Linked DNA regions of Homo sapiens: region 1 is linked to region 2. The links come from fine-mapping of genetic effects on gene expression. Tissue or cell type: whole blood. Region 2 holds a variant in brackets; the other region holds the start of a gene. All regions are shown on one strand. Distances are from middle to middle.

Evidence for each region. PIP is the estimated chance that this variant, and not a neighbour inherited with it, causes the effect.
Region 1: it holds the start of ELMO1, and the variant in region 2 is fine-mapped to the expression of ELMO1 in whole blood (TOPMed, PIP 0.97).

Annotation. Positions count from the first base shown.
Region 1 is chr7:37,446,836-37,451,835 of GRCh38, reverse strand. ELMO1 (engulfment and cell motility 1) reads left to right here and starts at 2,972. Exons shown (of 22, transcript NM_014800.11): 1 at 2,972-3,161. RefSeq lists silencers at 3,223-3,272, 3,283-3,332.
Region 2 is chr7:36,855,350-36,861,511 of GRCh38, reverse strand. It overlaps ELMO1 (engulfment and cell motility 1), which reads left to right. Exons shown (of 22, transcript NM_014800.11): 22 at 5,761-6,162. The coding sequence ends at 5,961. Among named protein-coding and RNA genes, the nearest start is that of MIR1200, 61 kb to the left of the region's middle. The variant T/G (reference allele first, on the strand shown) is at 4,167.

The DNA of each region.
Region 1 (5,000 bases), 590 kb before region 2:
CTGCACAAAGGTCTAAGTTCTGCCCAGGTGGGCTTACCAGAAGTGCAAGTGAAGGGATGCACTTGGATTCTGTTCCTTGCTATAAAATGGCCGTCCTCACTGCTAAAGCATGACCTAATGATTGAATGGCCCAAGCTGTGACCAGGAGCTGAGAAGGGACAGTGGCAACAGATCTTTCTCACCATTATGGGTGGAGACTGACATGTGAAAAGAGGGAGTGGATGTTGCTCTTTTATTTTTTGAGTCTGTTAATATGACTTGTCCATTGAAGAACTATTGTAGATAATAATAGCTAACATTCAATGAGTGTTTCTATGTGTTAGGCCCTGTTAAGAATTTTTCATGAATTAACTCATTTAATCTTCACTTAACCGTATCTGGCAGACATGGTTTCAATCTCATGAGTTAAGAGTAATGCAGCCAGTAAATGGTAATGGTGGGATTTATACACAACAACCAGGTCCAAAGATGGAGCCCACATACATGACAACACCACATATTCCACTTTATTGCATCCATTGCTGACCACCAGCAGAGCTGAGGGAGAAGGCGGGTTCCTCTAAGACACTTGACAATACTTCTAAGATGTCTTTATGAATAGAAGAGAAAATTGAAGTTTGGCAATTGCACTGTTAAGCAGTTTATTAATAACCAGTGAACCAAAGAATGCTATTCTCCCAGCTTAGCAGAGGGAGCTCCTTAGTGGGATGTCATGTGGCATCTTAATATTTTAATGTAATCCATGGATATGGGGAGACACTGGATGCCTGAATTAAATCCTAAGGGACTTAGAGAAAGTGGATCAGGAACTTTGGTTCCAAAGATCAACTCCATGTTCCCGCACATGGCCTAACCGTAACACTGTAAAGAATTTCCAGTCTTCCCCTTGCACTCCTATCAACACTGAGATGTATTTGAGAAAAAAAAAAAAAGAGAGAGAGAGAGAAGATCTCAGGCTGTATTGTGTTTGCTAATGGTTAATTACGTAATTAATCTATAAGACTACTTTTTTTTCTTTTTTTCTTTTTTCTTTTTTTTTTTTAAAGGGCAGAGACAGATATTCTTCTGGGAGAAGATGGCTCAAATGAGAGAGACTTGAAGCCATGTCACATGAAGAAGAGTCAGAATAATTGAGGATGGTTAATCCTCAAAAGAGAGTGTTTAGGTAAAATTTGAGGGCTGACTTCAAAGATCTGAAAGACTACTTCATGGAGGAAAGATGTGAAGACCCGGGACCAAAGGTTACAGGGGAGTGGATTTGCATAATTGCTGTGCAAGGAGGGAACAATTATGACAGCTAATGTTTACTGAGTGCTCACCACGCATGCACTAAAGTTAAGGTCTTTATATGCCTTAGCTACAAGGTTGTAGATCAAATTCATACTTATCACTACAAGTGTCTCAGAGCATCGTTAGTAAAGGCTCCATTTACTGACTACTTATTAAATTACTTCATTTAATAGTTGGTGCTATTGACTTTTGTTATTATATCATTACTGTTTTATAGATGAGGAAATACAGAAGTTAAGTTGCTTTCCTGCAGTCACCCTGCTTTAGTTACTGGCTTATAACCATCTGGACCCAGGCACTCTTGATACTAATACTGCCTCCCAGAGTCATGCGTATAATAAGGAGTTAGATCAGAGCTGTTCATTAAAAGTATAAGGTGAGCCACTAATGAGAGCCTATGTGTAGCCTTACATTTTCTAGTAGCTACATCAGAAAATGTAAAAAGAAACTGGTGAAATTAATCTTATATATGCTTATATCTTAACCCAACACATGACGAATCCAACTGACTTACTACATCAGACTATTCTCATGTATTGCAATAATGTAATCAACATAAACATACTTAACAAGTTAGTTTACATTCATTTTAAAAATACTGAATTGTATGTCTGTTTTACACTTACAGAACATCTCAGGGATAGCCACATTTCAAGTGCTCAACAGCTGCCTGTGGCTCTTGAGGGGGAAGATCTTAAAAGGGAGCTTAGTTTTCCACCTTGATTCTGATGCCTCCCTGCCCCCGACTTATTTCCTTTGCCAATTAGAAGAAAATGCCGAACTGCCTTTGACTTTTCCGGTAGAGCCAATGTAGGTATTTCTGAACTGGGGGAGGACAGGTGGTTCGCCTGCAACCCTCTTCCCTCCTGCCAGCTAGGCTGGGAGTTAACGTTTTTGATTTCTGCTTTGAAAATGATTTAAGTAGGTTGCATGAATTAAGTAATTTATTCTAAATATCAAATTATGGGTGGAACGTCTTGCCTTATGCAAAGTTATGCAAAATTAGGAAGTCCCTGGCTTAATTGGTTAGAAATACATCTTGTAGTTTCAATTGCAGGGTTAGTAAATACATAGATGTCGACGGAGAGGGAGGAAACTTTTTTTTTTTTTTTTTGCCACTCTGTCCAAGGGTAGAGGCACAGCGTCAAAACAAACACGTCTTAAAGTAGCGTTCAAACAGCCCACCGAAGTTTCCCCTTAATATCCGGAACCGGTTGCCAAAAATTAAAAAAGGATGTGAAAAGATGCTACTCGCTTTTGGCCTCCCGGAGATGGCGCTATGAGGGTGACGGAGTTAATTAGTGCCTCCAAACGCCGTGTGTGAGCTCATCGAAGTCATGCTCTGCACACATATTATTTATAGCAGATCTGAGGCATGCATGGTGTTTGACATTTCTGTCTTTTAAGTAGGGGGACTTCAAAAAGTCGTGGGCATCCCCCTAGGCAAAGTGCAGTGGGCAGGGACCAGGCAGGGTGCGGGCGCAAGGCGAACGCGCAGACCACGAGTGTCCTGGCGCAGGTGCCGGGGGCGGCGGCTGCAACTCCGCAGCGTCCGCTCGGGAGGAGAGTTCGCGGCTGATCTCCGGATGCCTTGCAGATGCAAAATGTGTCTCTGGCCAGCAGGAGGAAGGAAGAGGAAGTGAGAGCAGCGGCAGCCGGCGGTGCAGCAGCCGGCCGACCCAGAGTGTAAGTGCGTGTGCTGGGGCGAGCGGGAGCGGGCGAGGATGGGCACAGGATAGAGGCAGAGCCACCCACGCCGCCGCGGCCCCACGCTGGGCGACAGAGCCTCCAGTTCCCCTTCAATGGTGGCGGGTCGCCGGAGCTCTGATCGCCGGGAACCCTTGCCGCTGCTGTCCTGCGACCCCAAGCAGGTTCGTAAAGTTTCCTGGGCTGGCGCCGCGCCCCGACTCGCTGACCTCGGCGCGGCAGGGGAGGGGGCCGGGACTGGGGCCGGGAGGAGGCGTCCTGCTCCGGGGGACTCCGGGCGCCGCGGAGACACTTTTGTTTCCTCCCTGGGGGCGCCGCGGCTCGGGCGGGGGTGGCCGCCGCGCTCGGCAGGGTGAGGGCTGCGGGCGCGTCGGGGCGCTCTGCAGTTGGGGAAGTCTGAGCTCCGGGGATGGCGGGAGTGGGAGTGGGAGCGGAGGGAGGGGGCGCTGGAGGTGCGGCGCCCGCGGATGAAGCGCAGGGCCCGGGGCCCGGGAGCCCGCCGAGACATTTCGACCAGGGTCTGCGGGAGGGGGGGCGCGGGAGGGTTGCGACGCTGGCGCGGGGTTACTGGGGACGGGGGATGTGGGGCTGGGATCTTGGAGTCAAGATTCCTATAGAGCTAGAGAAGCGGCTGCGGCTCAGACTCGGCGTCTTCTCCTGCACTCGGGGATGGGAGGGAATCCCCCGGCGAGCGCGCTCGTGGGAGGGGGCGGTGATGGGCCAGAGGAATGGGGGCCAGGAGGGCCGGAGAGGGCGGTCTGGGCAGCCGGGAGCCCCTGAGGTTCTGGTTAGTAAATACTCTCCTCCCGGGGACACACCGGGGTCTCCGCCGAGACCGAGAGAGGCGGCGGGGAGCTTTGTGGAGCTTCGTGGAAATCTCGGCTTCGGAGAGGGGACGCACCGGGCGCGCCTTCAGAGAAGGGGGCGGCGGCATGCCAGGGGGCCCGGGAATCGGAGCGGAGAGTGGCGACTGCGATCGCCGGAGTCGCTTTGAGGAAGAGGAAATACAGAACTCAGCTGTCCCGGGGGTGCGCGCGTGTGTTTGGGGTTGGGAAGTCGGTGCTGTGCCGCGAGCGCGCGCGAGGCGGCGTGTGTGTGTGTGTGTGTGTGTGTGTGTGTGTGTGGTGTGTGCGCGCGCGCGTATGTATGTGTGTGTGGTGTGTCGTCGGTGTGTGTGTGAGTGTGTGTGTGTGGGGGGGGTGTTGTGGGTGTGTGTGTGAGTCGGTGTGTGTGTGTGTGACCGCACAGCCAGGAACTCCCCGCCCAGTGACCCTCTCCCGCCTAGGGGGCCATTTGAAGTTGGAGGCGGGTCGGGACCTGCCTTGACCTAAAGGACCAGCCTCAGGCTTGGTCCCAGGTAGTGACCCAGCTCTGAGAGTCCCTGGACGGCTCCCGAGACTCAGTGAATATATTTGGGATGCCCCCCGCGCTGGATCATGGGCTTCCCAACACCGCTGGCCTTGAATGATTCGGGCCTAATTCGTTATGGTTAAGATTTCAGATAATCTAAGACGGGTTGAGGCCTCCAGAAGCGGAGGCTTCCTGTTGGGCGCTGCCAGTGACTTGGGGATGAAGCTATGGAAGAATATCTGAGTGTTTCTCTTTTGCTTCTATAAAAGTAATTAATGACCTGTATTTACACACCAAAACCCTGCGAGCAACTTTGGGACATAGAGGGATATAATCCTTCTCAGAATCACTTTGAGATTGCAAAAACCGGCAGCAGCTATTATTGGGGTCTCCTCTGGCCAGGGTTCTCATATTATCTCACCTCCATGCCTACTTTCCAAGGTTGTTTCAAGCATTAATGTCCCATAATTTACAGATCTGGGGGAAAATAATGGTAAGTTAGGAGGCCAGATCCCCTGCAGAAACATCACATATTTTTAATTTTTCTTATAGCTGACCTTTTGAAGCTTTACTCTTTATTATTGTACATTTCCTATCTCTGGAAGGCTGTGGTTAAATGTGCATGCTGCCTTGTTTCTACTCTGTTTTGTTTG
Region 2 (6,162 bases):
CTCTTGACAAACTGCCCGTTGCAACAGATTCAACTTCTTAGTAGCTTGATTGATAGTTCATGGTAAAGAAAAAGGATGTAAAAGGCCTCAAATGCAGCAAAGGTATACTTGTTAATCCAGAGAAAGAAGCGGCCCTGGTTACAGCTTTGGTTTTCATTGAATTTTTCGTTTTTGGTCTGGATTTTCCCAAGATAAACTGGTCTCTCTTCTTTAAAACATCTGAGGAAGTAGGTTTTCTACCAAATTTCTTTAAGCTATTTTAAGAGGTTTAGGGCTGTCTCTGCTGTTGGGATTTTATTTTCGAGATGCTTTTATTCCTTTCTGACATCTTGTTATATGTATAATTTGTTTCTCTTCTTGTAGCACGCTGTCAGCTATATTTAAAATATTTAGCATAAATCTAGGAAAATGCATTTGTAAGATAAAGTAGCAGTTATGGCTGATTTAACTTTCTTTTATAAACTGGAACCCAACATCATGCTTGAAACTTTTATTTTTAGATGATACCATTCAAATTTTTGTTTTGCGTGTGGTTGCATAAACAGCTTTAGAAAGGAAGAGAACATTTTAATAGAATCTGACTTTTGTTCCCCATTTCCCCTAGGACATTTAGCTCATTTAGAAGTTATTCAGTATCTAGTTTTCACTGGTTTGAAGCTTTTGAATAAAATTGTATATCCCAAAGAGAGAGGAAAGATTAGACACAAATCCTGCATTTAGAACGGTGCTTAAATATAATTCTGTGTCACTTGACATTTAGTTTGCTGAAGGGTAAGACTTTGTCTTCATCTTTCTGAAAATAGATACTGTGTTCTACTGTTTCTGTTTTTAAATAAAATTGTGGTTCTACACAGGCCACCATATTCAAGATGTATAGAGCTGTGTACAAAACTACTTAAAATAGTAGAACTTTGGATGTTATTTAAATCTCTGCAAGGCTGTTTTCCCCAGTGTACATTAATTCCAGATCAGGATAAATGCTCTGGGACTGCCAGATTTTTATTCATATCTGCCACTTCTTATAGATACAATGAAGAGAAAAATGCCATATGCTTGTGAACACTTTTAATTACTTCAGACCACTTTCCTTCTATTACCTCATTTTATTTCCATAATTATTCCATACAATAGAAAGTTCTATTACAGACATTCTCATTTATCAAATGAGCACGGAGAGACCTCCCAGAACTGAATACCTCAACAATAGAAAGGTTAACACAGTTGGCCCTTGAATAGCATGGGGGTTATGGGCACCAAACCCCCCACACAGTTGAAAATCTGCCCATAACTTTTGACTCCCCAAAAACTTAACTGTCAGTAGCCTACTGTTGACCAGAAAGAAGCCTTCCCCATAGCATAAGCAGTTGATTCACACACATTTTGTATGTTATGTGGATTTTATACTGTATTCTTCCAATAAGGTAAGCTAGGGAAAAGAAAATGTTAAGAAAGTCATAAGGAAGAGAAAATATGTTTACTATTCATTAAGTGGAAGAGGATCATCATAAAAGTCTTCATCCTCATTGTCTTCACATTGAGTAGGATGAGGGAGAAGGAAGAGGACGGGTTGGTCTTGAGGTCTCAGGGGTGGCAGAGGCTAGAGAGGTGGAAGAGGTGGAAGGGGAAGCAGGAGAGACAGGCACACTTGGTATAAGTTTTATTGAAGAAAAAAATCCATGTATAAGTGACCCACACAGTTAAAACCCATGTTGTTCAAGGGTCAACTGTAAGTATAACGACCCTGGCTTACTCTCTGCCAGGCACCATTAATGCTTTATATGTATATTTCACCCCAGTTAACCCTCATATAACTCTAAAAGAATCCCCATTTAAAAGAGGGAAATGAGGCAAGAGAGCTTAAGAAACGTGTCCAGGGTCACACAAGTAGTAAGAGGACAGAGCTGGAATTTAAACACTGGCAGTCTTGCTCCAGAAGCCCTACACTTAACCCCTGCACTGTGGAGCTAGGAAGAGAAAGAGCAGACACTGAGCTCGCACATTCCTGGCAGGCCCATCACTCAGTTTCTACAATCACCAACTCATGGCCAATCTGGTTCACCTGTGCTCCCATCCACTCTTCCACCATCACCCAGCTGCCACCCCTGATTATTTTGAAGCAAATCTGGATATCATTTTATGTATAAATGTTCCTGTATGCATTTCCCAACAATAAAGACTCAATTTAAAACCATAACTGCAATACCCTGATCACACTTAAATAAATTAATAATGTGGTATTTATTTATTAAACCATGTGCAGTCAGTTTTCAGATGTCTCTAATTGTCTCATTTGTGTTTTTTTCTTTCATACTTTGTTCAAGTCAGAATGCAAATAAGATCCATGCATTGCAGTTGGTTGACATGTTTCCTAGGTTTCTCTGAATCTACAGGTTTCTCTTTCTCTCTCTCTGTCTCTCACAATCATGAGCATGTGCCTTTTTTCCTTGAAATTTATTTATTGGGAAAAACAGGTCATTAGACCTGTAATGTTAATAGTCTAGACTGTGCTGGTTATAACTTTATGTATTAGCTTACTGTTGCTATTGTAACAAACTGCCACAAACTTAGTGTTAAAGAACACAAATTTATTATCTTCGAATTCTGGACTTCAGAAGTCAAATGTGAGTATCCTGGGCTAAAATCAAGGTATCAGCAGGGCTGTGTTCCTTTCTGGAGGCTCTAGGGAAGAATTTTCCCTTGTCTTTTTCACTCAAGAGTCCACCTGCACTCCTTGGCCTCCATCCATTGCAATGGCTGGTTGAACCTTTTCATCACCTCACTTCAGCCTCCTCTTTCGTACTCAGATCTCCCTCTACCTCTCACTTCTCTGACTCTGACTCTGACTCTTCTTCTGTTTCCTTCTCTCACTTTTAAGGACCTTTGGGATTACATTGGGCCTGCCTGGATAATCCAAGATAATCTCTGTTTTAAGGTCAGCGGATAGCAACCTTAAGTCCCTTTTCCATGGAACCTGACATATTCACAGGATCCAGGGAGTAGGATGTGGGTGTCTTTGGAAGGCGGGTATTATTTTTCCCACCGCAATCTGCAATATAATTCATATATTCATCGGTCCCCTGTATGTCTTGTGAATTGTAGTTAAAGGATTAATCAAATTCAGGCTCCCTTTCTAAGCAGCAGCAGTGGTGTTTGTACTTTCATGGTGACTTCTTGCTCCCCTTTCTTGGATATTAGCAGCCAACAATGATCGTTGTCTGGATCCTTGGAACCATTAGAGGTTGCAAAAGGTTGATATCCTAATTTTATTATTCCTTCTTTATTAAAGGGATATATAAAGAGAAACTGGCCTCATCAACTATTTGGTTATCCTAAAGTTATACAATTTACATATGGTAGGCAGGATAAATACTTGATTCTCTTTACCAGTTTTCAAAATAGTAAGCATCTTTCAAAGAAGAACAATGAGGCATTTGGGGGCAGGGGTTGAGTAGGAAATCATGCTTTTAAACAGAATTGTGTCTCAATATGTTGCAGTTACTGTCGTTATTAGTTTCTAAGTTATCCTGTCTGGAACAAGTAGGAACACCATTGGGTTGGCATCTGAGTCCTATTGGGAGGACCCCTTACGTCTTTGATAACTTTCTGGCATTCTGGTATGATGGAGTGTTCCAGGTTTATCTTTATGTTTCCTGCCTTTTCTCTGTGAAGCCTTGATTACTTGTAGTGGGAAATGATATTTAGTGACCAGAATCTAAGCATGAGTTGTGTTTATGGTCATTGCACACCACGATGCAGTGGTTCTTGGTTGGTCATTATTTTTTAGCCCTTTTTGGGGACAGAGCTAGGTGGTTTTCTTTTAAGATAAACTAATGAATTGATACTGATAGTTCCAACTCAAATTCAGTATCAGTACTACAGGGTTTTTATTTATTGGTCGATGTACTTTCACATAAAATTTTCTGTGCCTGTTGTTTCTAAAAAGAAACGTGCTGCAGAAGTGTTCCTGTGGGTTAAACTAATCTATACTAGGAAGCTAGCCAGGCCTGGGAAGGCTGTGTGAAAAGAACAGTAATCCCCAGGACTTGGGGATTTACCATGAAACAGCATGAAAGCTGGAAGGGGCCTTTGAGAATGTAGAGTTCAGTGGCACCCGTACCTGCGTGTTCGTTAGAGTTTTCTAGGAAGCAAAGTCTCCTCACCCTAGA[T/G]CTACATGATCAGGATCTCCAAGGTAGGAGCTAGGTGTCTACTTCTGTCAAGGTTATTTATGAAGAAATTGATGGTTAGACATGTTCAGAATCAGATCATGAGGACACTAATTCTTCCGGAAATCCCTTAACACTAAATTGATGTTTCGATGGGTTAAATGCTTTGGCTGAGATCACATAGCCAAGGTAGAACCAAAGCCCTCCAAATCAATGCTGCCCTCCTGAAACACAGATCTCATAATACACCCATTGTGCATCTCCTCAGCTTAAAAAGGAGGACCGCTGATGTGCATCACGGAAGATTTCCATCACATCATGGTGACTGGAGATTTATATAGTGCTTGCAGTATACTTTGGTTACTTTTACGTTGAGATCTGCTACCATGGAATACAGTCCAGATAACCACAGTGCCAAAGTAGGTTAAAGAGGGTCTGGAATTGCCGCTTGAACTAGTGAGGCAGAAAAGTTGGGAATCTGGAGTGCATGGTAGAAGGAAGACCACTTCAACAGAAGAGGAGAACAATTGCTGTTATAGAATCCTATATAGGACTACTAGAAACCTAAACTCCAGTGCATGAGTGGAGCCCAGCATCCAGAATGCCAAGCAGCTTTCTGAGATGCTGGCATCAGGGGTGCCTCTTTCACCAGGTGTCATGGTTCTCTGTCCATGTCAGTACAGAACTCCAGCCTCTGGGAGGGGAAGCTAAGAAGAGAAAAGCAGGTCCTCAGACAAGGCACAGTTCTTCCTTCTCCCTCACAGAGATCATAGTCTCCTGGAGAGACAAAAGGCTATGAAAGGAGAAGAATCAGACTCTTAGTTGGGTACTGTGAAGGGCTTTCCAAAACAGATAATATCCCCAAGTATGAGGCCCCAGAGACCTGGTGAAAAGAAACCTTAGGAACTAGAGACAAAGGCTAAAGAGGTCCCCAGACAGGCAGCCAACCCTCCTCCCATTAAGATTGCCCAATAATTTTAACCATTTTGGCTGCCAGACACTGGGCAGCATAAGCCTATTTCCTAGCCCTTTAGCTGAGAAACACCAAGGTGGGACTGCCATTGGCCATTGGCTCCAGGGTGGGACAGGGCTGTCATTGTGAATGCTAGGATCAGACAGGACAGGCCGAGATGAGCTACTAGACTAGGAGCCATGACTGGAGTCAGCAAAGAAACCTGCTTCACCTGATGTTGAGTCCAGGGCTGTTCGGTAGATTCCACCAGTACCTAAAAGTCATAGACTCCCACCTAGGTGTTACATTGCAAGTCATGGAGAACTCCAATCCTCAGCTGTTACAGAGAAGCATTCTTTGCAAAGAAGAGCACAGGCACTGGAGTCAGATTGCCTGGGTTCAAATCCCACCCGGTCTACATAATACTGAGTCACTTCTCTGTACCTCAGTTCCTTCACCTATAAAACAGAGATAACAGAAGTATCGACTTTATATTGAGATGTCGCCAAATATGAAATGACGAAGTAGGCAGAGCCCTTAGCGCACAGCCTACTGAGGGATGAGTATTCACTGTTAGCTATTTTTACTATTAATACTTCTGTAATTGCCACCAGTAATGATCGCTGTTGCCTCCCTTCCTGCCAGTACTGTATCTGGACGGATGGACTGAATGCGCTACTCGGGAAGGACATGATGAGCGACCTGACGCGGAATGACCTGGACACCCTGCTCAGCATGGAAATCAAGCTCCGCCTCCTGGACCTGGAAAACATCCAGATCCCTGACGCACCTCCGCCGATTCCCAAGGAGCCCAGCAACTATGACTTCGTCTATGACTGTAACTGAAGTGGCCGGGCCCAGACATGCCCCTTCCAAAACTGGAACACCTAGCTAACAGGAGAGAGGAATGAAAACACACCCACGCCTTGGAACCGTCCTTTGGTAAAGGGAAGCTGTGGGTCCACATTCCCTTCAGCATCACCTCTAGCCCTGGCAACTTTCAGCCCCTAGCTGGCATCTTGCTCACCGCCCTGATTCTGTTCCTCG